Homo sapiens: one gene and its partners. The protein of the gene in region 5 interacts with the protein of the main gene of each other region in a pairwise test. Each region holds a gene or a part of one and is shown on either strand. Other genes may lie near its edges. The genes, in order: HUNK, PAAF1, CCDC90B, KLHL23, ANXA7, TAF5L and CPNE2.

What was found.
Region 1: the proteins of ANXA7 (region 5) and HUNK interact in a two-hybrid assay, tested with the Homo sapiens proteins (one large-scale study listed by BioGRID and IntAct).
Region 2: the proteins of ANXA7 (region 5) and PAAF1 interact in a two-hybrid assay, tested with the Homo sapiens proteins (one large-scale study listed by BioGRID and IntAct).
Region 3: the proteins of ANXA7 (region 5) and CCDC90B interact in a two-hybrid assay, tested with the Homo sapiens proteins (one large-scale study listed by BioGRID and IntAct).
Region 4: the proteins of ANXA7 (region 5) and KLHL23 interact in a two-hybrid assay, tested with the Homo sapiens proteins (one large-scale study listed by BioGRID and IntAct).
Region 6: the proteins of ANXA7 (region 5) and TAF5L interact in a two-hybrid assay, tested with the Homo sapiens proteins (one large-scale study listed by BioGRID and IntAct).
Region 7: the proteins of ANXA7 (region 5) and CPNE2 interact in a two-hybrid assay, tested with the Homo sapiens proteins (one large-scale study listed by BioGRID and IntAct).

What each region holds. Positions count from the first base shown.
Region 1 is NC_000021.9:31,871,795-31,875,819, reverse strand, and holds the start of HUNK (hormonally up-regulated neu tumor-associated kinase), read right to left. Parts: upstream 2,801-4,025; 5' UTR 2,146-2,800; coding exon 1,885-2,145; intron 1-1,884.
Region 2 is NC_000011.10:73,883,499-73,886,998, forward strand, and holds part of PAAF1 (proteasomal ATPase-associated factor 1), read left to right. Parts: intron 1-3,500. UniProt on the Homo sapiens protein: Inhibits proteasome 26S assembly and proteolytic activity by impairing the association of the 19S regulatory complex with the 20S core.
Region 3 is NC_000011.10:83,279,868-83,283,367, reverse strand, and holds part of CCDC90B (coiled-coil domain-containing protein 90B, mitochondrial isoform 1 precursor), read left to right. Parts: intron 1-3,107; coding exon 3,108-3,227; intron 3,228-3,500.
Region 4 is NC_000002.12:169,740,332-169,743,831, forward strand, and holds part of KLHL23 (kelch-like protein 23), read left to right. Parts: intron 1-1,053; coding exon 1,054-1,206; intron 1,207-3,500. Other genes in the region: PHOSPHO2-KLHL23 (kelch-like protein 23), read left to right, coding at 1,054-1,206.
Region 5 is NC_000010.11:73,404,059-73,407,558, forward strand, and holds part of ANXA7 (annexin A7), read right to left. Parts: intron 1-3,500. UniProt on the Homo sapiens protein: Calcium/phospholipid-binding protein which promotes membrane fusion and is involved in exocytosis.
Region 6 is NC_000001.11:229,609,123-229,612,622, reverse strand, and holds part of TAF5L (TAF5-like RNA polymerase II p300/CBP-associated factor-associated factor 65 kDa subunit 5L), read left to right. Parts: intron 1-2,412; coding exon 2,413-2,517; intron 2,518-3,500. UniProt on the Homo sapiens protein: Functions as a component of the PCAF complex. The PCAF complex is capable of efficiently acetylating histones in a nucleosomal context. The PCAF complex could be considered as the human version of the yeast SAGA complex.
Region 7 is NC_000016.10:57,120,083-57,123,582, forward strand, and holds part of CPNE2 (copine-2), read left to right. Parts: intron 1-1,010; coding exon 1,011-1,109; intron 1,110-1,591; coding exon 1,592-1,678; intron 1,679-3,331; coding exon 3,332-3,391; intron 3,392-3,500.

The DNA of each region.
Region 1 (4,025 bases), on a different chromosome or scaffold from region 5:
ATGTACTTGCAGTGTTTGCCATGACGTTGTGAGCATAAAGACTCGCTTCTTTCCGTTATGTTTAGAGAGGAAATATGCACAACCAGCCTGAATCCTATACGTTTCCAATGAAAATAAACTTCCATCGCCAGTGCCAACAGGAATTTACACAGGGCCAGGAGAAGAGAGCTCACTCTAATTAGCCGCATCCTCGCGCCCTGAACGGACCCGCAGTGTGGAAGTCAGACAGCTCACTACGAATCGAATCGAATCGAATCGAGGAGTGTAAGTGTGCCTCGCTCCTGCGGACTAGAACGAGGTTTGGAGGTTTTTCCTTTTTCTTTGAAGACTTACTCAAGTTCATACTGAACGCTCCTTTTTTGCATGGGAATTCAGGCAGGAGGCACTTCTAAAAACTACTCACTCTATCCCCACATACCCATAATAAAGCGGTGCCTCACTCAAAACGGCTGTAGGGAACACAGGGAAAATGACAAGGGTGACGGAGACCTGCATTCACAGGCAAAAGGCTCCAAGACAAAGAGGGGAAATGGGGTGGGGAGGGAACTACAGGTGGGGTGAGGCTAGAGACAGGCAGGAAGGGCAGGTTGGCCCTGTGACCAGGGGTTTCACAGGGCAGCCCCAGGCTGGGCAGAGGCCCCCAGGTCGGAAGGCAGAGGGCTCGGCTCCCAGGCCACCTGCTCGGTTGGGAAGTGAACTCCGCCTTCCCTCCTTGCGGCTGACGCCTCCCTGACCCACGGACCACACAAAGGAGCTGGTCCCCCTCCAGGTTTGAGCCACCCCCAGCCTGGGGGCAGTCTTGAGCCCGAGATGACAGGAGCTTGGGACAGCTCCAGCCTGGATTGGCTCTGAGCTCGGGCAGCTCCAGCCTGGGGTGACCCGGCCTCAAAAGCGAGTCACCAAGCTCTTGGGTTTCTTCTCACAGCTCTAAGTTACACCTTCCATCTTACCTGCCCCTCGCCTGGCAAGGGTTCACAACCATCTAACTTCCAACAAGGCTGGAGAGGTGCCCCTTTTGGTCTCGCGGAGGTCCCCTTTCCTTTCCCCTCTTCTAGAAAGATAAGAAGGCATCTCCCAGTCTCTGGGGGGAGGTATCTGTAGTTCTGTTCCTGCCAGTAGCAGGGTCTTCACTGCAGCTCCCACCCTGAGGCTGGAGGGCACAGAGGAGCTGGGGGAACGGAGAGAAGGGGATGAGAATGGCGGGGATGAGAATGGTGGGTGATGAGGGGGCAGGGGTGGGAGGGTTGAGTGGATAGAGAGGAGCACAGGTTGAGGGATGGACAAGTGGAGGGCGGAGGCAAAAACCCTCCTCTGAGCACGAAAAATTCCCTAGCTGCCAAAAAACATTCCCTAGCTGCCGGAGCCCACAGGTGGGAAGGAATGCAGGATCTCAGCCTTCTCCCACCTCCTCCGAGAGCCCAGGACGGGGATCAGACTCTAAGCTCCCCCCAGAGGCTGGCTGTTAGCTTTCCTGCCCCCCCCGCCCCCCGACATAAGAGCCCACCTCCTCTAGCCCTGGTTCCCGCCTCGCCACGGATCCGCCGCCCCTGCCGGCCTGAAGGGCAGAGGGGCCCCATCCCGCCCCCCGCGCTAGTGTCGCCAGGCGGCGCCCTTCCACGAGCAGAACGGCCGCGCGGGACGCTTCCCGGGGCAAGGCCGTCCCCTCCCAAGCCCCCAACCCCCGGGCAGCGGACCGCAGGCCGCCTTCGGGAAAGGCTGCGAGATGCTGAGCGCGCGTTTTAACCCAACAGGAAAGCCGGGCGGAGGGGGAAGGCGCTTGGCCCGGGACTGCACACTGGGACTCCCAGTGCAGTGCTCCCCGCGGGGTCCTGGCCGCCGACTCCCGCCCCTGTGCCCCAGCCCCACGGCGCCCGGGAGACTCACCTTCTCCCCGGTCAGCACGTGCAGCCCCTCGCGCACCTTGGCAAAGGAGCCCTCGCCCAGCTTCCTGCTGCCGATGAGGTAGTTGCCCACGCGCTTGTGGTGCTGGAAGTCGCGGAGCCGCTCGCGGGGCACGCCGCTCACCCAGGCAGGCAGGAAACTTCCCTCGCAGGCCGCCGCGGGCCTGGCCGCGTCCTCCGCGCCGCCGCCGCCCCCAGGCGCCGCCGGCTCCCCCAGGAGCCCGTCCCCCGCCGCCGCCGGCATCGCGCTCGCCGCGGCCCGCGCGGCTCCTGCTCGTCTCCCGCGCTCGCAGCTCCTCCTCCCCAGGCTCTTCGGCTTCCCCGGCTTCTCCCGCCGCCGCCCTGGGCCCAGCCCCGCCTGGGTCTCCGCACCCAGAGCCCGGGGCCGCCGCGATCACGCCCCCCGCGCCGCCCAGCGAGGCGCGTAGACAATAGCGGCTGCCCAGGGGACGCGGGACCGGGGACCCCGCCCCCAAAAGTTCTTCCTCTTAGGGTCGCCCGGGCCCCTTTCAGGACACCAGGATCCCGCCCCGGGTCCCGTCCAGGAAGCTAATGACAGTCGCCCTGCTCGGGCGCGCGGGGTGGGGCGCGGTCCGGCGGCGCCTGGGTCCCGGGGTCCGGGTGCCTGGGTCCGGGAGCCCGGGTGCCTCCGCAGCCTCCGCCTCGCCGCCGCCGTCTGGCCCGCACGGGCTTGGGTCGGGCTCCCGCGATCGCTCCTAGCCGTGCGCTGGGCGGCCGCTCCCGCCGGAGAGAAGCGCGCGGCGGGCTGCCGGCGCCCTCTGGAAGGCAGCAGAAGAAAGCCCCATTCAGTTTGAATTTGCAGAAATTTAATCCGCTCGCGGGCGGCGGGAACAGATGCGAGCTCCACTCCGCAGCCCGTGCACTTTCAAATCCCTAGTAGCCCCTCCTTCCCCGCGCGCCACAGTCAAACTCGACCCTCGCTGGAGAGGGGAGGGCCCGGGGAGGGGAGCGGCGGAGTGGACGGAGAAGCCACCTGAGCGCCAGACAGGGAGAACCTGCGCGGCCTCGGAGGCGCGCGCTCCCGGGCCGCCCAGGTCGGGCCGCCTCCGGCTGCGCCTCTTGCCCGGATTCTGGGCTTGGGTTTTCTGGACCTTTCGGCGGTGAAATCCCCCACTGGCCGCACCCACCCGGGGCGGGGGGAAGGGGGAAGGCTCTCGAACTCCGTGGACTGTGAGTCGGGTTGCGTGCCCGGCCCTGAGTCCGCCACACAGTAGGGCCCCCTGGACCGGGGGTGGAAGGATAGATGGATGGCTGGAAGAAAGGGTGGGGAGGCGGCCAGGCGTCTGCCCGGGCTCGCACGCAGCCTGGTTGGCTGTGTTGGAGGAGGCGCAGCCACAGCAGTAATAGTAGCAGCAGCAATGTAGGAACCAGGGCGTTTGCTGCCTCTGCTTGTAGCTTACACCTTCTTTGCCTTCCATTGAAATGATGCCTGTGATTGCAGGAGGTGGACCGGCGCTCGCCTCTCTTCGATGCTTTTGTTCTGCAAGCGCTGTGACTGTGCTCATCGCATAAACAATTGCAACTGCCCTGACGACACTGGACCCTCTCCCAGGATCCCCAACGTCTTCTCAAACCGAAAATGAAGAATCTTGTGAGGGAGAAGGAGGAGGGTAGGTAGGAGGAGGCATTTACAAAATGCTACCTGTTGAGGTGCCCGCATTTGATGGAAACTTCACCCCGATCATGCAACATCAGAGCTGAAAGGAAGGATTTGGTCCTAACAAAGTTCCTTTCATTGTTTATTCCTGAGTAAACAAGTATGACATCGACCCATAGCAATGCTTTGAGATTGGGAGTGGGGGGTGGGGGAACAACAGCTGTCATCAATCCAGTGTCTGGGGGTCTCGCTGACCCATCTGAAGAGGGACGCAGAGAAATGCCTGCTTTCAATACATCTAATTTTAAATACGCTACTATATTCATCCACCTACCTGTTACAAGTCACCAGCCTCAGTTATTATGACGGAACATACTGCGTTTTCTGTTGTTCTGTCTCATTGTTCCCGTTTACCAATATTAAAGATACAGCTTAAAATGTTTTTCTTGCTGTGCTGAAGGGACTTCTTTGCTCCCACCGGCCTTGACTATTTCAGTAACGTTCAT
Region 2 (3,500 bases), on a different chromosome or scaffold from region 5:
TCACTTAGTATAATGTTTCTTTCTTTCTTTTTTTTTTGAGAGTCTCACTGTGTCGTCTAGGCTGAAGTATAGTGGCACAATCTCGGCTCCTCACTGCAGCCTTCACCTCCCAGGTTCAAGTGATTTTTGTGCCTCAGCCTCCTGAGTAGTTGGGATTACAGGCGCCTGCCACCACACCCGGGTAATTTTTGTATTTTCAGTAGAGACGAACGAGGTTTCGACATGTTGGCCAGGCTGGTCTTGAACTCTTGGCCTCAAGTGATCCTCCCACCTCGGCCTCCCAAAGTGCTGGGATTACAGGCAACTTAGTATAATGTTTCTATTTGTTGTTTTTATCAGTACTTCGTTCCTTTTTGTGGCCCGGTAATACTCTGTTGTATGGATATACTACATTTTGTTTATCCATTCATCAATTAATGGACACATATTTCTAGTTTTTGGCTATTATGAAGGAAGGAGATTTTGATGGCAGGATAGATGGCATGAGAACCAGCTGCTGTGGGGAATGGGAGGGGTGAAAGGATTACAAAACTGCTGAGTTTAGAAACATGAATTGGATTGGTGACAGTCGGCACAGTTGTGTTCTTTTCTGGAGCAGTACTCAGCAGCCTGCATGTAGGAATGTAGAAGGTAAGTGGTTGGATTGATCCTAGTTCTGCTATTATATAGAGAAAACCAAGGCTGAGGTCATTTTAGTGACTTCACAAATGTAGAGAAGTCAGCTGGGCAGGGTAACTCACCCTGTAATCCAAGCACTTTGGGAGGCTGAGGCAGAAGGATTGCTTGAGCCCAGCAGTTCGAGACCAGTCTGAGCAACATAGTGAGACTCTGTCTCTACTAAAAATAAAAATAAAAAAAATAGCTGGGCATGGTGGCATGCAGGCTACTCAGGAAGCTGAGGCGGGAGAATCCCTTGATTCTGGGAGATAGAGGCTGCAGTGAACCATGATCATACCACTGCACTCCAGCCTGGGTGACAGAGCGAGACCCTGTCTCAAATATTAAAAAAATACATATATATACATCCACAAATGTGGAGAAGTCATTGAGTGATTGGTTGAAATGATGCACCATGAGGGCCAGACTTCTTAAGGCAGTTGGTAAACACAATAGGGAATCATGGAGTGGGATAAAAAGTGAAGTTGCTTCAGTTCTGTTTTTGTGGCATCTTTCTGAAATAGTGCTTCATGATACTTCCCTGTGAAAAGCGTCTTTACTAGGTCTTCTCTAGGCCAAACTTCTACCCTAGACTTTGAGTTTCTCTGGGATTTATCCCTCAACTATCATTTCCATGACTGCTATTACCAAACTGGTGTATTAATTGATGAATCCTTCCTTCTTGTTCTTTTTGACTTTCTTTTATTCTTTTTTTTTTTTTTGAGACGGAGTCTCGCTCTGTCGCCCAGGCTGGAGTGCAGTGGCGGGATCTCGGCTCACTGCAAGTTCCGCCTCCCGGGTTCACGCCATTCTCCTGCCTCAGCCTCCCAAGTAGCTGGGACTACAGGCGCCCGCCACTACGCCCGGCTAATTTTTTGTATTTTTAGTAGAGACGGGGTTTCACCGTTTTAGCCGGGATGGTCTCGATCTCCTGACCTCGTGATCCACCCGCCTCGGCCTCCCAAAGTGCTGGGATTACAGGCGTGATATTCTTTTTTTTTGAGATGGAGTCTCACTCTGTCACCCAGGCTGGAGTGCAATGGCGTGGTCTCGGCTCACTGCAACCTCTGCTTGCCAGGTTCAAGGTATTCTCCTGCTTCAGCCTCCTGAGTATCATAGCTGGGACTACAGGCACGTGCCACCACACCTGGCTAATTTTTGTATTTTTAGTAGAGAAGAGGTTTCACTATGTTGGCCAGGCTGGTCTTGAACTCCTGACCTTGTGATCCACCCACCTTGGGCTCCCAAAGTGCTGAGATTACAGGTGTGAGCCACCATGCCCGGCTGACTTTCTTTTATTCTTGATATGCTCCTCCTTGACTTGGAGTTTTCTTTTCCCTATTTTCTTCCTAGCCAGCTCCTATCTTTCTTTGAGGCTCCTATACTCTCTAGAAAGCCCTCCCGGCCTGGTCGTGGTGGCTCACACCTGTAATCCCAGCACTTCGGGAGGTTGAGGTGGGTGGATCACCTGAGGGGAGGAGCTCAAGACCAGCCTGGCCAATATGGTGAAACCCCGTCTCTACTAAAAATACAAAAATTAGCCAGGTGTGGTGGCACGTGCCTTTAATCCCAGGTACTTGGGAGGCTGAGTCATGAGAACTGCTTGAACCCAGGAGGTGGAGGTTGCAGTGAGCTGAGATCACGCCATTGTACTCCAGCCTGGGCGACAAGAGTGAAACTCCATCTCAAAAAAAAAAAAAAAAAAATCCCTCCCACTCTTGTGTGAATCCATGATGATTTCTGCTTCTCTCCTGTAACTTCAGTTTGGCTCAACATTTATTTACTGAATAATAAATGAATGTAGCACCCTGCTAGACTTAAGGACTTCACAGTCTGTTGGGCAAGTCAGACATGTAAACAGTGTGTTATGGGCTGTTATAGACATGAATATATAAGGTGTAGAAGAAGAATGGAAACAGTTTTTAACTTCATTCTATCATCTGCGTGTGTTTATGTGTAGGATAGTATCTTACTTAGCCCATATCTCTGCAAAATCAGTATTCTACTTAGGCAAATTTTACAGGTTACTGAAGCTTAATTCTTTACTATGTATTATGTGTATATACTGTAGATAAATACATGTATGCATACTGATCTTCACCTTTCATCCTGGAAGAATTACATTTCACAGCCAGTTACATCAGGTTGAGATCACTCTAAAAGCCCTCTCTACAAATGCTGTATCAAATCTCTAAATCTTTGTTCTTAGCTTTTAGTCTTGAAAATGTATTTTAGTCAGGCCAGGCGCGGTGGCTCACGCCTGTAATCCCAGCACTGTGGGAGGCTGAGGCGAGTGGATCACGAGGTCAGGAGATCGAGTCCATTCTGGCTAACATGGTGAAACCCCATCTCTACTAAAAATACAAAAAATTAGCCGACATGGTGGCGGGTGCCTGTAGTCCCAGCTGTTCGGAGGCTGAAGCAGGAGAATGGTGTGAACCCAGGAGGTGGAGATTCCAGTGAGCTGAGATCACGCCACTGCACTCCAGCCTGGGCGACAGAGCAAGACTCCATCTCAAAAAAAAAAAAAAAAAAAAAAAAAAGAAAATGTATTTTAGTCTTGAAAGTGTATTCCCTTTCAAATTAGAGTTTAGTGCTATAGTGTGTATGTTTGACCCCTCCAAATCTCATGTTGAAATTTAATCCTCAGTGTTGGAGGTAGGGCCTAATGGGGGGTGTTTGGGTCATGGGGGCAGACCCCTCATGAATAGATTAATGTCCTCCCTGGAGAGTGAGAGTGACTGAGTTCTCACTCTGTTCTTTCCTGAGAAAGCTGATTGTTAAAAAGATCCTGGCATCTCCCTTCTCTCTCTTACTTCCTCTCTCACCATGTGATCTCTGCA
Region 3 (3,500 bases), on a different chromosome or scaffold from region 5:
GCCTAGATTTTGCTGATTTCATTCATCCTGTCTGGATAACTTCTCTCAGATTTAATATAGTTCTACCATCATCCAAATAGCCATTCTTGATCCTTTATTCTCAAGGAGGGCCAAATGCTTCTCCTTTGTATTATTCATCATTGTGTATACATAATGCCAAGCACAGTGCCTTTCATTCAGCAAGTATCTATGGAGCATCCAGAATTGTGTAGGCATTGGGGATTCAGTAGTGAGCAAGAACAGATGTGGTCCCTGCTCTCAAGGACTGTATAGTTTAGTGCAGGGGTTGACAAACTTTCTGTAAAGAGCCTAATAAATATTTCAGGCTTTGTAGGCTGTAAGGTCAGTCACAACTATTTGCTTTGCCACTGTAGCATGAAAGTAGCCATAGATTAATCCATAAATGAATGAGCTGTGTTCTAATAAAACTATCTAGTTCTAATGAATAAAACTAGAAAAACAGGCGGTGGTAGTCTATGGGCTATAGTTGGCTGACTGCTGGTCTCTTGGGGAGACAACTGAGAGTCACATAAATGTGTAAATTATGAGAGGGTTTGCAAAAGAATCCTGTGCAGTACTATGAAAAACCATCATGAGAGAGACATAACCTAAAGGAGTCATCAGGCTTTCCAGAGGAAGAAACATTCAGACTGAGCTCTGAAGGATAAACATGAGCAGGCAAAGAAAAGGAGAGCTTTCTGAACAGGGCAGGGGCTAGGCAAAGGCCCTGAGAAGGGAAAGCACATGGCATGTTTGTGGAATTAAAATCAAAGAGCCCTTGAAAGCAGAGGACCAGAGAGAGCATAGTAGGACATGAGACGAGCTGCACCCTACAAAGATTTATTGGCTTGTTAAGGTATTTGGTCTCTATCCCAAATTTAGCAGGAAGCTGCTGGTATTCAGAGTGTTTGTTGACTAAGTCAGAGGAACTGTACTAATCTGCCTAGCTATGAGACCATAAGATCTCAGACTAATTACAGACAGTCCTCAACTTAAGATAGTTTAACTTAAAAATTTTTGACTTTACCATGGTGCAAAAACAGTGTGCATTCAGTAGAAACTGTACTTTGAATTTTGATCCTTTCCTAAGCTAACGATAATGCAGTATTCTTGCAATACTGGGCAGGGGCAGCAAGCCGCAGCTCCCAGTTAGCCATTGATCACAAGGGCAAACAACCAATACTTAGTATTGCCAGGGTTTTTGGGTTTTGTTTTTGCATCCCATCGTGTTTACAAAATGCCCATCTGGGTGTCTACATGAAATATTCAACACTTTATTATAAAGTAGGCTTTGTGTTAGATGATTTTGGCCAACTATAGGCTAACGTAAGTGTTCTCGACAAGCTTGAGGTAAGCCAGGCTAAGCTGTGATGTTCAGCAGGTTAGGTGTATTAAATGCATTTTCAGCTTAGGATATTTTCAATTTATGATGGATTTATTGGGACATAACCCTTTTATAAGCTGAGGAGCATCCATACTTAGCCCTGAGCCTCAATTTACCTCATCCATAAAATGAGAATTTTAAGGATGGGGTAATAGATGTGAAAACAGTAAAATATTATTTAAATATTATTACTGATTTTTTTTTTCTAAATCCAAATAAACTTCTAATCAGGAATATGTAACTAAGAGTACCATCATTACTCCTAATGCAGTTGTTATTGAAACTACTGAAATCTGCCCCTTTTTCCTCTAATTTTTCTTTTTCTCTCCTACCTTAGGTCTGATATTTACACACAAAGGCATAGTTCTTTACCCTTCTAGATGACATTCAAGTGAAAAAGATTACTGACCAGTGTACTAATATGTGTGTTTTTAAAAATTGCTCCACCTTTATTTACAGCTACTTGCTTTTATCTCTTCAGTTAAATAGAATTTTTTGGAGTATTTTAATGAATCTTTTATCATTTGAATTTAGAGTTTATTGTTAGATTTTTTAAAAAAAACAATATCTGTTTCCTGCCTTCTAGTCCATAAAATCAGTGAGAATATCATTTATGTCTGGTTTTGCTTATGATTTTATCCCCTATGCCTGGCACAAGTTCTAGCACTCAATCAATATTCATTAGGCTAGAAGGATATAAAGAAGGAATCACATTTGTCCTACACAGTACTAGTGGAAAAATAATGCCTGAAGTTGCAGCCTTTTAAATATCTAGATATTTTAAGTGACTTAAGATACATAAGAGAGACAGCATGGAGTGTAAGATTTGGAGTCAGAAGTACCTGAGTCTGAATCCTAATTCTGCCATTGGCTCTGTAAAGGTAACTCCTTCACCTTCCCAAAAGTTGTTTATGGGCAGGGCACCTTGTAATAAATTCATCAGCAATATATAGAAAAGGTCTTTACTGTGTCTAGGTTAAAACTTGGGGAATTTATTGAAATAGGACAAGAAGGGTTATTTCAGAAATGAGAAATTTTTCTTAGGGTTCTTATGTTGATACCAGTAAATACGTCCATGATTTCAAATCAAATTCATTGATTGAATCAACAGTAAAACTTGGTGGCCCAACTATGTGCCAAAGCACTGTTCTACGTGCTAAAGATACAGTAGTGAAAACCACAGTCAAAGCATCATGGAACTTCCATTCTGATCCAGAGATACAAACAGCAAATAAGATAATTTCATGTTGGAGCTGAGAACTACGTAGGAAATAAACTGTGGATATATAAGTGAGTGGGAGTATGGAAAGCTACTTTAAACAGGGATTAAGTGTAAAAAATTTTCATAGCTCTTTGAAAGACTATTACTGAGCACAGAGAAGAATTGAATTGTGCAGTTTCTGCTTTTCAGTAATTAGAGCTGAGGTGGTGATAACCAAAGCATTTGATGTGTGTTTTATTACAAGTTTATACTGACTCTTAACATTTCTGAATACCAAAGGAGGGAAAAGAAACATTTATTGAATGTTTGGTGTGTACAGAAGAACGTCAGAGACTTTTCAGATAAAAGAGAGGCTCAGAGGAGTCAATTAACTTGGGTGAGATGACAAAACTAGAAGAGCTGGAACTATATTATAAATGGATGGGGAAAATGCTTTGTAAGCTAAAGTAGCTTTGTAAGCTATCAGTTACTACAAAAGAAAAAAATTGTCTTCTCTTTCAGAGTTCTTCACTACCACAACCAAGGAGGGATATGATAGGCGGCCAGTGGATATAACTCCTTTAGAACAAAGGAAATTAACTTTTGATACCCATGCATTGGTTCAGGACTTGGAAACTCATGGTGAGAAACATGGATACCTCCTGAAAGAAGAAAATTAATAGCACTCATAATGCCTAGTTAAGACAATATCACTATTATGAACAATCAAAAGTAACTAAATAGATGTACCATCCATACAATGAAATATTTTATAGTCACTAAAAATGATACTGTTTGAGAAATATTTACTGATATGGGGAATGTTCAAGATATGTTAATTGAAAAAAGCATATGAAATAATATGTGCAGAATTATTCCAATTAAGTGAAAAAAAACTAGAGTTTCTAGGTTAAA
Region 4 (3,500 bases), on a different chromosome or scaffold from region 5:
AAACTCCTCCTGGGCTCAAGTGATCCCCTGCCTCAGCCTCCTAAACTTCTGGAATTACAGGCATTACTGTAGACTTTATATAGCTTATAAAAATACTTTCTTTTTATCCTTATTCTATAAGCTTTTTTTTTTTTTGAGACGGAGTCTCGCTCTGTCACCCAGGCTGGAGTGCAGTGGCACTGTCTTGGCTCACTGCAAGCTCAGTCTCCTGGGTTCACGCCATTCTCCTGCCTCAGCCTCCCGAGTAGCTAGGACTACAGGCGCCCACCACCACGTCCTGCTAATTTTTTGTATTTTTAGTAGAGACGGGGTTTCACCGTGTTAGCCAGGATGGTCTCAATCTCCTGACCTCGTGATCCACCCACCTTGACCTCCCAAAGTGCTGGGATTACAGGCGTGAGCCACTGCGCCCGGCCTCTATAAGCTTTTTTATATTATATATATATATATATATATATATAACTTATTTATTGATTTTTTTACTCGTTAAACTTTTTTGTTAAAAAAGTAAGACACAGACATACACATTAGCTGAGGCCTATACAGGGTCAGGATCATCAATGTCAGAGTCATCAATATCACTGTCTTCCACCTCCACATCTTGTCCCACTTGCAGGCTTTCAAGGGCAATAACAGGCATAGAGCTATCCTCTCCTATGATAATAATGCCTTCTTCTGGAATACCTCTTGAAGGACCTGCCAGAGGCGTAGATTTATTTACAACAGCATCACCAGAAACACATGAGAATGCTTTATGCCATGTCTTTAAAACAGCTACCACAGTATCACTAGGTGATAGGACATTTTCCACTCCATTATAATTTTATGGAGATCATTGTGCGTGGTGCATGGCTGTGTTTGTGTGCACGTCTCACCCTCTCTTAAGAGCACAAAGAGCCTTCCTTTTTTATTCTTTTGTCCCTTATAGCACTTAGCACAGTACCTTGCATTTTACCATCAGTAATAACAAAAACAACAATAAATTTAGCCCAGGGTTCACTGCAAAAAAGAACAAAAGATCAATCTAAAGATGTGATTTTAATTAATACGTAGGTGTGGGAAATGCTACTGCCTGTGTCTTACATGATGTTATCTACGTCATTGGTGGCCACTGTGGCTACAGAGGAAGCTGCACCTATGACAAAGTTCAGAGCTACAATTCCGATATCAACGAATGGAGCCTCATCACCTCCAGTCCACATCCAGGTAACAAAAATACTGTCTCAAATAGTGTATGTTGTGATGTAGTTTAGTAGCATAAAGGATGGCTAAAAATGGACTGGAAATAGAAAATGCTGATTTTATTGTAGACTACACATGGGTAGAATTAAAAGTCTCAAAATATTCATATATGTCCATCTAACAATAATCACAATGAGATTCTGATTGGGTCACATCTACAAATATTTTCCCTGATGTCTTTATACAATGCACATTGTAAGTCTGTGTGGTCAAAAATATTAGCGTCTTTAAAATTTTTTTCCTTTATATGCCATCTTTCATTTATGACATTAATTATATAAAATACAATGTTCATAAGTAGTTGAAAAGCACCATTCTATCAAATAGTCAGAAAGGGTACCCAGTGATTGAAGTTCAGCTAGAAATTGTTTCCTGTTTTAGAAGCATGTTCTTTCTAGGTTTCACTTACTATTAAGCACTCACTCCTACAATGTGCAGAGCCATATGTTGGCCTTACCTTAACACTCATACAGGGAACATGCTGTCTGCCCATAAGGAATGGCCTACCTTCTTGGATGTCTTCTGTTCTTTGACTTGTGTCTTTGTGAAGAGCTCAGAGGGAAGCACAAGTTTTAGTCTGTTTCAGTTATGCCATAGGTTTAAGTTGTTTTCATTAGGAAAGATTCATATCATCGTACCACCATGTTACCTTGAATCATTTTCCATAGAGCATCAGGCTTCCATGTGGGTCAGTGGAGGGGGTAGTGGAAATTCACAAGCTGGAACCATCTGAGAGGACTAGTAATACTTACCATAGATCAGGCACTGGCTAAGCACTTCATATGTGTATTACCTCAGATTCTCACTACAAGTCTGTGAGCAGGTATTGTTTGTCACCATTTTACATATTTGGAAATGGAGGCTTAGAAACAATAAGTAACTTTTCCAAGGTCACAGTTTCACAGTTTGAAAGTGGTAGACCAGGGTTCAAAATCTGACAGTCTGATTCCATAACTTGTGCTGTAGCCACTAAACAATCTGTCTCTCCTTCAGGGAGCAGACTCTCCTGCTTTCAACCAAGGCAGCTACTTCCAGCCCATACATCATCTATCCCATATGATGGTTAATCTGAAGCACACCTAAATCTGGTGCTGCATCTCCATATGCCCAGGCTTTGCATGAGAAGGAACTTTAGCCCCAGGCTTCCCTGGCTGCAAAGACACCATGGAATGGGTAAACTTCTCCCTCCTAGTAGCCCAAATGGACCATCCCAGACTCCCCACCACTTTCTGCTGTGATCAGTGAAGTTATAATGGAAAGGAATAGTAACAACTCACAGTGAGAAATAGCTAGCATTTATTCAGTCAGTGTGTGGCAGGCACAAACTATTCCAGTAATTTTACATGTATAATCTGTTTAAACCTCAAAATAATTCCATGAGCTAGGTACTGTTTTTATCACATTTTATAGGACACTGAGGGTCAAAGAGATTATATAAATTGCCCAAGGTTAGCCAGCTAGTGCTTATTAGAACTGAGGTTCAAACCTAGACAGACTGGCTTGAACTTCACTATTATCTCACCTGAACCTCATGTTACCCTTAGAAGTTAGATGTTACTCTGCCTATTTTGTGGATAAGCTTATCTTTACAAAGAAAATCCGATACATGAAAAGTCAGAATTCACAAATTAGAGGGCAGTTATTTATATTATAAATTTAATGTATATGTCATTAAGAGTTTCCCTCAAAAATAAGTTTTCCATAACAGATTTCATATAGCTTATTAACTACATGAAAAAGAGTCTGAGAGACAGTGTCACTTTGGACTTAATCCAAAGTATTAATAAGTCATGGCAAATTGAAAATCCAAAATAAATGTTAAATTATAATATAAATCAATGGTAACATAATATGCATCCACATGTAGTTTTGATTTACATTGAACTTTTTCCTGATGAAACATAAAAAACAGATTTTAAATCAGTACCTTGCATGATGTGTTCTGTTTAGCTTTCACAGTCCTTAAAATATTTTTGAACTGGCTTGTTACCAATATTTAAAATTTAAGAGAATTTCAAGTAAAAATCATTATTTCTGTCCTTTAAAAGAAAAGGGAAGACCTAGCAGCCTTGGATGTATTCCTTCTAGGCAGCAGTCACGGGAGCCAGGGGGTAGCTGTTCCCCTAAATGAGGCTTGTGTGCTCCGTTTCACCACAGTCCTTCCAATTCTCCTCACGTCACTGACCTAGGGGGCCTGTGCCGTTGTTTTTCTTGCTCCCAGCTGGCTTTGCTCAGCTAGTCTGTTAAATCCTTAAGCT
Region 5 (3,500 bases):
ATGAAGTTTGGCTTTTATTAATTCATTATAACACTTTCAGTACATTTACTTTCTCAATTTTATTAGACTTAGAATAATTTTAAAATTAGAATGCTTTCTGATGGAAAAAGAAAGTAGGGTGGTAGAGTGTGGTTAGTCTGAGATTAAGGAGGCATTCATATATTATCTATTCTGTGATAATAATGGTGATCAAAAGTTGATAGTCTTCTGATCAGCAAACATAACACTGGAAATATCTTTTAAAAACTGCAGTCTGTACCAGAAAGTTTGAAAGTTATGTTCTTCAAAAGGTGCTCATTTCCATTTGGAAAAGTAAACAATAACCTGCACATCAAGTGATGTTAAGACATTACTATTTTTTTGGTGTGATAATGGTACTATGATTTTCATCAAGTATTCTGATCTTTTAGAGATACACATTAAGTATTTACAAACAAAACGATACGATGTCAGGGATTATGCCAAAATAATATGCAGGAATATTCTATATAATATAGTGCAGGAATTTAGACATAATAAGCAGTCAGGAGTTGATAACTGCTCACGCTGGGTGATGAGTACATGGGGATTCATTACACTCTCCTGTCCATTGTTGAAAAGATGGCTCATGTAAAATAAATGGAGCTAGTGTGGATAAAGACAAATATCCCTATATATATATATATATATATCTTTTGCATTTGAAGAAAACACTATTAACCTAAAGCAAATGTAAATAAACAGAGAAAAAAACAAACATTCAAAAGAATACCCTCTTAGCCTGATCAAATCTAAAACACGGCCAGGCGCAGTAGTTCACGCCTGTAATCTGAGCACTTTGGAAGCCAACGCAGGTGGATCACTTGAGGTCAGAGACCAGCCTGACCAACATGGTGAAACCCTGTCTCTATTAAAAATACAAAAATTAGGGCCGGGCGCGGTGGCTCACGCCTGTAATCCCAACACTTTGGGAGGCTGAGGAGATCACAAGGTCAGGACATTGAGGCCATCCACGCTAACACAATGAAACCCCATCTCTATAAAAAATCCAAAAAATTAGCCGGGTGTGGTGGCATGTGCCTGTAGTCCCAGCTACTTGGAAGGCTGAGGCAGGAGAACCCCTTGAACCCAGGAGGTGGAGGTTGCAGTGAGCCAAGATTGCACCACTGCACTCCAGCCTGGGCCACAGAGCAATACTGTCTCAAAAAAAAAAAAAAAAGGCTGGGTGCAGTGGCCCAGGCCTGTAATACACCCAGCACTTTGGGAGGCTGAGGTGGGCGGATCAACTGAGGTCAGGAGTTCGAGACCAGCCTGGCCAACATGGTGAAACCCTGTCTCTACTAAAAATACAAAAATTAGCCAGGCGTGGTGGCATGTGCCTGTAAGCCCAGCTACTCAGGAGGCTGAGGCAGAATTGCTTGAACCCAGGAGGCAGAGGTTGCAGTGAGCCAAGATCACACCACTGCACTCCAGCCTGGGTGATAGGGCAAAACTCCATTTCAACAACAACAAAAAAATCTAAAATACTATTAGTGATCAGATATAATATACCTGGCAAATACATCTATATAAAGTCAGTAATCACTTTTTTGGCATCTACAAGAAAACATTGCTACAAGTGGAGAGTGAATGATCAAAGGTTTAAACCAGGCTTTTAAAGGTGCTAGACACAGATAGGCAAGAAAGTAGAACAATGTTATTTGCAAGGCAAAAGGTGAGACGTAACTGTGAGACGGATGATCACCAAAATAGACTAAGGAGCAGATTAAGACAGAAGTCAATCAGGAGGCTTTCTGTATGTGTATAATAAAATACTCGTCATTCTCCACCACACCACTCTTAACATCCTTTATCTGTCAATAGCACCACTACTTAAATTACCTAATACTCCAGTATAGTAAGAAACCCAGTATTTTTCTCTTCTTTTTTTTTTTTGAGACAGAGTTTCGCTCTTGTCACCCCAGCTGGAGTGCAGTGGTGCAATCTCGGCTCACTGCAGCTTCCACCTCCTGGGTTCAAGCAATTCTCCTGCCTCAGCCTCCTGAGTAACTGGGATTACAGGCGCCCACCACCACACCCGGCTAATTTATTGTATTTTAGTAGAGACAGGGTTTCGTCATGTTGGCCAGGCTGGTCTCGAACTCCTGACCTCAGGTGATCTGGCCGCCTCGGCCTCCCAAGGTGCTGGGATCGCAGGCATGAGCCACTGCGCCCGGCCAAAACCAGTGTTTTTCTATCCATCCTTTGAAATGCCTCTTCTGTAATTTCTGTTCTCATGGTCATATACTTAGACCAAGTTTCATCACTTGATGCCTGTCTTACTAAAACTCCTCCTCTGTTTATATTCTTGCTTATACTCTGTCACCCTCCCAATTTTCTCAGACACTGTCACTAGCTAAACTTTCCTAAAATGCTGCTCTTTCAGCAAATTGCTCTTCAGCTCAAAAATCATCAATGACTACTGCTGGAGTATCAAATGAAAATTAATTGGCCTGATATACAGGTCTCCTTAGTACTGGCTCCAATTATTATTATTATACATATATTTTTGAGATGGTTTCTTGCTCTATCGCCCAGGCTGGAGTGCAGTAGTGTGACATCAGCTCACTGTAGCCTCGAATTCCTGGGCTCAGATGATCCTCTCATCTCAGTCTCCTGAAGAGCTAAGACTACAGGTGCACACAACCATACCTGGCTAATTTTTTGTATTTTTAGTAAAGACGGGGTTTCGCCATGCTGCCCAGGCTGGTCTTGAACTCCTGGGTTCAAGAGATCCACCCGCCTCAGCCTCCCAAAGTGCTAGGATTACAGGCATGAGCCACCACACCCACCCTCTATTTATCTATTTAACTCATTTCTTACCAACACCTAACCCTCAACGTGAAATCTCTATCACTTGAACCATTCCCAGCATTCCTTTGCTTAAGCCATTCTTATCATTAACTGACTTGGCCCTCAAGCCTGGGCTTACTCACCCCTCCTATCTAGCTCAAGTCTCCTCTCTTCCTTCTTTGAACAACGTAGTTGACTAAAATAGTGTTTCTCAATGTTTTCTTTTTGAGACAGTCTTGCTCTGTTGCTCAGGCTGGAATGCAGTGGCACAATCTCGGGTCACTGCAGCCTCCACCTCCTGGGTTCAAGCGATTCTCCTCCTTTAGCATTCCAAGTAGCTGAGACTACAGGTGCGCACTACCACACCTGCTTAATTTTTGCATTTTTAATGGAGACGGAGTTTCACCATGTTGGCCAGGCTGGTCACAAACTCCTGACCCCAAGTGATCTGCCTGCCTCAGCCTCCCAAAGTGCTGGGATTACAGGCGTGAGCCACTGTACCTGGCCTCAAACTTTAATGTGTATATGAATCCCTAGGGATCGTGTTAAAATAGAGATTTTAATTCAGTAGCTCCAGGATGGGGCCTGAGATTCTGCATTTCTAAAGCTTTCAGGTGATATGGATTCTGCAGGTCTGTGATTCACACTCTGATACCAGAATACTTTGGGATTTCTGGATCTACACCTAA
Region 6 (3,500 bases), on a different chromosome or scaffold from region 5:
GTCAGCAGCCTGCCATCACGTATTTCAGGGTTGGATCCACCCATTATTCCTTGCCTTCAAACTCCTCAGAGATACCCTTGACCAAAACAGGGCCAGATGATGGCCTTGGTATAGAATACTAAGTGCCTTATTGTTTGAATAGGGGAGTCCATTTACAAGGCCTCTGTCCCATTGTAGAGTAATTCCTTCTGAACATGCCATCCTAGCCATTTAAAAAATCTGCTGCCCTGCATCCTTTGGAACCAGAGAGCAGTAATTCTTGCTGTTGTTGATAGAAAGTAGGAATGAACAATATTAAACAGACTTCCAGAACTTTGCTCGTCTAAGTTGTCTTAGTTTCAATAGAATAGCTTATTAGGAGAAAGTGTTATTGCTGGAAAACCACCAGGAAAAGTGAGAAACATGAAATATGATTATCAGAAGATTTTGTCCTAGATTTTTCCATTAATTGAGTAATCTGAAGAATTCTTTTTTCAGCAGACATTTAGTGAACATCTGCTATAGGCCAAGTGCTGAAAAGTTCTAGAGATAGCTACGATTTGACCCTAGCTCTGAGAAGCTAAGTGTTCTAATTGGGAAGTGAGGCAGGTAAGTCAGTGATTGTAGAAGAGCATGAGGTAGTAAGTTCTGTGAGGGGGAGGTTCAGTGGTAGCAGAAAAGATCATCCAAATTAGGCTGGCAAGCCAAGGAAGGATCCCCAAAAGGCCTTGTGATTCCTGACATATAGTTGGGGGTCACTAAATAGTTGAAAGAGTGAGCTGAGTTGCAAAGGAACCATTAGATGTTTACCAGGGAACAAATTGGAGGAGGGTATCCAGGTTTTCAAATGTGAATTTTAGAAAACTCAGTCTGGTGGCAGTATTGATAAGGCAGCCCAGATTAGAATCGAGGAAACTAGTTAAAAGACGCAGTCCAGTGAGAAGTGAGGACAGCCTCAGTTGAGGAAGTGGTAATGGGAGTGGAGAGGAGAGGATATATTTTAGGAATCTGTAGGACTTAGTGACAGAGTAACTAAGCGGGGGGCAAGAAGAAGGAGGAGGAGTCCCTCCCTTGCATGCAGGCTTGCAGCAGGTCCTCTCTTCTGACTGTCTCTTCCTTCTCCTGGAGTAGGTTGGCTTTCCTCTCACCTGTGTTTCCCTTTCTACGTATTTCCTGTTATGGCGCCCTCAGTCCTGCCACATTCATCACCATTTCTCCATCCATATTCCATTGACAAAATGCATTCATGTTTCATTCAGGACGCGGTTAAAGGTGGCTTCCCTTGGTTTTTAGCCACCTTCTTTCCCCGGTGTTCCCCACTCCTCTTGTAAACAGGAGGAGAATGGTTTTTGTTTTTTGTTTTTAGAAAGCATAAACTCACAGATTGGAGATTAAGTGTGTGTTTACATACTGAATATTGAGACTCCAGCCTTGTTTCCCCTGCACCAATTCATATGCCCGGAATACTGCAGCCAGGCACACATGCTCCAGGAAGGCAAGTAAACAATCCTTCCCTGGTGAGTCCAACTTGCCCAAGAAGAAAGACGAAAAGACAGTGATGTTGGGACATTGCTCACCCTGGTCACCCTGGAGGATGAGCCTCACCACCCAGAGTGCCTCACCGTAAGACAGCCAGGGGCCATTGAACCCTAGAAGAAACATATCTCATAAGAAGGGCAGATGGAAAGAAACAGAAGAAAACTTCAAAAATACCTTGTTTTAAATACTTAAGATTCAAAAAGCATAGCGTGTTTAGGGGAAAAGAGAATGTTGAGAATGAAAAAAGTTACCAATTAGATACATGATAGTAAAAAATAAAAACTCATTAGGTATTATAAGTAATGTAGGGGGAAATAGTAGAAGGGCTGAAGGGTGAGGAAGGCTTTCAGAAAGTAGAGCAAAAAGACAAAGAAATGGAGTAATAGGAGAAAAAAATTAAAGGATTGGTTCAGGATATCCGACCTTGAAATTGTAGGAGTCTTGGAAGATAGGGAATTATCAAAATGATTCCAGAAAACTTCACAGAACTAGAAGACATGAATTTCCAGATTGAAAGGGCCCACTAAGTGCCCAGCACAGTGATTGACAATGAACCCACACCAAGGCACCTGTGAAATGTCAGAACATAGGATCAAACATTTCCTGATGAATCTCATGGATTGATGTACCTGTCCTCTCTCATTCACCTTATCCTGTGCTTTATGCCTTTCCTTCCCTGGCCTTCATTTTATTGGGCTTCAGGAGGGAGGGGAGAGAAACAAGTGTCATCAGTCTGTCATGTTTAACCAGGACCCAGCATGCTTTGGAAACCTGCTGAAATGTCAGTTGCTGTGCGTGTGTGCACAACACCCTCCTTCACCCATCCTGCCACGTACTGGGTTAATAATCGTCTCTCTGTTTCCCGCCCTGACTTGTGTATCTTCTCCTCTTTAGTGCAATCAGAATCTGGTTGTGCCAACATAGTGTCTGCAGCCCCTTGCCAGGCAGAACCCCAGCAATATGAAGTACAGTTTGGACGACTGCGGAATTTTCTCACTGGTAAGTACTCAGCTCTAGAACCTTTTCTTTTTAAGAAAACAGAGTAATACAGACCAACTTTGGGCACACTGCTTGTGAGTTAGCCCTGCTCCACAAGGAGCGGTAAAAAGAAAAATTAAAAAATAGAGTAATGCAGATTTCCCTCAGAACCAACTATATTCCACAATTGGTTTGAGGTACTAGGGATTCGAAGGTACTCTTAACACAGTTCTTGCATTCAAACTTATGGTCTATTGGAATTCCTGAAGAGTTCAATCACGAGGTTTAAGTTTACAAGGGCAGAGCTCTGGGTGTTTATTCACTGTTTTATTCATGGCCTTCAGCACAGTGACTTGTGACTTGTATTGAATAAGTAAAAACTGTCAGCTATGCAGAGAAGCATCCTTAAATACAGCACATTTGAAATGTACATGACATCTCTACTAATAATATAGTACATTTCACAATGGTCTTTGCCCCGTATTTCCAAAAGTGCAAGTAAATAGTCCTTATGAATGAACAGGCAAAAATGCTAGAAGTTGTCATTTAGACCAGTTTTTGAGTGGCAGAATGACCACTTGAGATAAGAATAAAAAAGATACTGTAGAACATTAGGAAGAAAAACATTAAGAGCCCCAGAAGATAAATCGGAAAGGGATGTGAACATAAAAATTTACACCAGGATAACTCACTTTAGCAATCAACCGAGTGTATTAATACTTCACTGCAAAAATCATTACAGTTCTGTAGCAATAAAATTATGCCATTGAGTTTATTTTATTATACACCTATGCTTCAGTGATTAAAAAAATACAAAAATGTATGTAATGTCATTAGGGTCATCTGAGTGTCACTCATAATAGAAATAAGTCATGACCATGACAAGAGCCATCTCACTGTCATGAGTCAGAATATACCACTATTAAAATTATACATTTGGTGATTTACTTTTGTGTCTGTTTTCCTCATTAGACTATATGCTCCATGAGGGCGGGGACCATATC
Region 7 (3,500 bases), on a different chromosome or scaffold from region 5:
GCCAACATGGGAAAACCCCATCTCTACTAAAAATACAAAAATTAGCCGAGCATGGCGGTGCACGCCTGTAGTCCCAGCTACTCAGGAGCCTGAGGCAGGAGAATCACTTGAATGTGGGAGGCGGAGGTTGCAGAGCCCAGATTGAGCCACTGCACTCCAGCATGGGTAACAGAGCAAGATTCTGTCTCAAAAAAAAAAAAAAAAGTTATAGGCCGGGCGCGGTGGCTCATGCCTGTAATCCCAGCACTTTGGGAGGCCAAGGTGGGTGGATCACGATGTCAGGAGATTGAGACCACCCTGGCCTCTCACGTGAGGCCTCTCACCCACCCTCTCACGGTCTTTAGTAGAGACCGTCTCAAAAAAAAAAAAAAATTATAAAATAAAATCAAATAAATAAAAAATAAAAGCTCTTGGTCCCCAGGGGCTGGGTCTGAGAGCAGATGGGACTGGGGAGACAGCTAGGTCAGGACAGAGATTCCCAAGTAGGATACCAGGAATCTTAGGTTCTAGTACTGGGTCTGCTACTGCTGCTGTGAGACTTTGGGCAGGTACATCTCTTTCAGGGCCTCAGTTTACCCATCAGTGGGATGGGAACAATAATCCCTGCCTTCCTCCTAGGAGGGCCATAGCAGCTCAGACAGCATATAAAGCTGTGATTTCTGTGCTCATCTCAGAAAAAAATATGTCTAGAGAGGGCCCCAGGCCATAAGCTGGGTGGGTCACAACCCGAGGTGGAGGGGGAGCCATTTGCCAGGTGTATAAGGAGTGGAGTTGCCTGCACTAGAGGGTACAGCCTCCATCAGTGGGGCAGACACACTTTCTCCTTTTCCCAGCAATCACAGAAGTCTTCCTGCAGGAGGCAGTTCAGGAGCTATCCAGGCCAGCTAGGCAGATGCTGAGGAGAGGCACTACCCAAACAGAAGACAGAGGGTTTGCTTGGGGAGTTGAGAGGGGCTGGAGAGCACCTCTTGGGGGACAGCTCTGGGGTGACCGTGCTGAACCCACCCCAGGTCATGTGCTACGACTATGACAATGACGGGGGCCATGACTTCATCGGCGAGTTCCAGACCTCAGTGTCACAGATGTGTGAGGCTCGAGACAGCGTCCCGGTGAGATGGGCACGTGTACTGTAACCCCAAGACCTCAGCAGGGCTGGGGGAAGGGGCACCGGGTCTTGGGTCAGGCAGCCTGGGGCTGAGATCCCCCTTCTGGCTGCATGACCTTGAGCAAGGCATTCAATCTAAGACTCAGTTTCTCCATCTGTCAATGGGGGCAGAGGATTTGGGTGGGGATTGAATGAGATGATGCAGGCGAAGTGCCCAGCATATAGTGAGCAGTCAGGAGCTATCCATTTAAGTCATTCCGTGATGTTGGGCCCTCAGCTGGACAGTTTGGGGGTGCGTTATCTGGGGAGGAGGGAGGCAGATGCTGATCCTGCTACCATTTTTGGGTGTGGACATCCTGGGAGGCTCCCTGGAGGAAGCATGCTGCCCCCATTGTCAAGCCTGTGGAAGGGATTCTAGGGCCAAGGAGGAGGATCTGTTTCCAAAGAAGCCCCGAGGTGAGTGTCTCTTTCTTTTGCGTTGCCCAGCTGGAGTTCGAGTGCATCAACCCCAAGAAGCAGAGGAAGAAGAAGAACTATAAAAACTCGGGCATCATCATCCTGCGATCCTGCAAGGTGAACCAGCGTGGGCAAGCACGAGCCAGGGGCCAGGTTTCAGGCCACACAGAAGGGACAGACAGAGCACTGGATCTGGAGCCAGCGAGGCCTGTGTTCAAATCCCGGCTCTGCCACATCCTGGCCCTATGGCCTTCTGAGCTTCACCTCACCAGGCCTCAGTCTCCTCATCTGTGGAATGGAGATATTAACGAGGCAGAGCATGTCCAGGGTTACTCTTCTCTCACATTCCTGTGTGGAGGCCAGGGAAGGCACGAGCTGACCTTCCAGGGCCTGTCCTGGTGGGAGAATTGTCATTGCGAGTTGCTGCCGCCCACGGTGGGCATGCAAGGGGCAGAGGACATTGGGTGGGGACACCCTGTCCTCTCTGGCATCAGCGTCACTGTGACTCCCATGGTACAGCCGGGGCCACTGAGGCCCAGAAAGGCAATGAAGTTCATGTCAGCAGTGGCCAGGCTGTGGGTGGGGGCCAGAAGACCTGGTGGGCAAATAACTGCTGGATCTGGCAGAACATTAAGGAAGGCAGCCTGGGGCAGGAGAGCAAGAGACCTGGGCTCAGGGCCTGACAGCTCAGGAGTCTGGCCGCTGCTCTCCACCAGCAGGTGGATCCCAGACTCCCACCTTATTTGGAGCCTCGTCTGGCTAGGGTTTACACGAACATTCAGTGGTGTCACGACAAAAAAGCACTCCGTTAAAGGTCAAGATGTCAGGTTGCAGCCTTGTGATGGATGGTCCTTGTTTCTGAAGTTTCCATCATTCACATCACTTTTCACAATTTCTGGCACCTGCCTTACTTATTTTTTTGAATCAGTCTTTCTTCCCTGTATTATTGTTTTTTGTTTTTGTTTTTGAGACAGAGTCTCACTGTGTTGCCCAGGCTGGAGTGCAGTGGCGTGATCTCAGCTCACTGCAACCTCCGCCTTCCAGGTTCAAGGGATTCTCCTGCCTCAGCCTCCCAAATAGCTGGGATTACAGGTGCATGCCACTACGCCTGGCTAATTTTTGTGTTTTTAGTAGAGATGGGGTTTCATTATGTCGACCAGGCTGGTCTTGAACTCCTGACCTCAAGTGATTTGCCTGCCTTGGCCTCCCAAACTGCTAGGATTACAGGAATGAGCCACTATACCTGGCCTGTTTCTTTTCTCTTTTTTTTTTTTTTTAACTTAAATACATTTATTTAGAAAGAGATTATTAGAACTCTACCAAAATTAAAAGATCTGCCTTCTTTGCCAAAAAGAGACAAAGACCATCAAAACAACTTCTAGAGGAAGGCCTTGAGCTGGAGGCCTGCTCTTTCTCTTTGTTAAAAAGGTAGATTAATAAGGGCCAGGAGAAGGTAAGTACCTAACAGTGACAAATTGAGACACTCTGTGTCAGGTAACTGACACTGGGCCCTGGCACCCTGCCTGGAACCAGCATGTGTCTGTGTATCTGTGGGGTGTGGGGGTCTCTGTGAGTCCCCCACCCATTAGGAACCATTGCACTGAAGGCTTTGTTATAGAGAGATTTGGGTTTTGTTGTAATTAGATCAGGCCCATCAGCTTTTTTTGACCTCCTTGTCCCTACTGAGGTTGCAGGACATAGAGCAACAACTCCCCCATGGGGAGTGTGACCAAGTCAAGGGGACCCACTGACTCATCCGCTTTCTTCCAGATAAACCGAGACTACTCCTTCCTTGACTACATCCTGGGAGGCTGCCAGCTCATGTTCACCGTAAGGCTCTCCCCGCTGGCTCCCTCTGCACCCCCATCCCAGTGAGGGTCCTCCCTGAAGACTTGGGCCACTAGTGCAGCCAGAGGGACTTAGGGTAGACTTCAGGAAG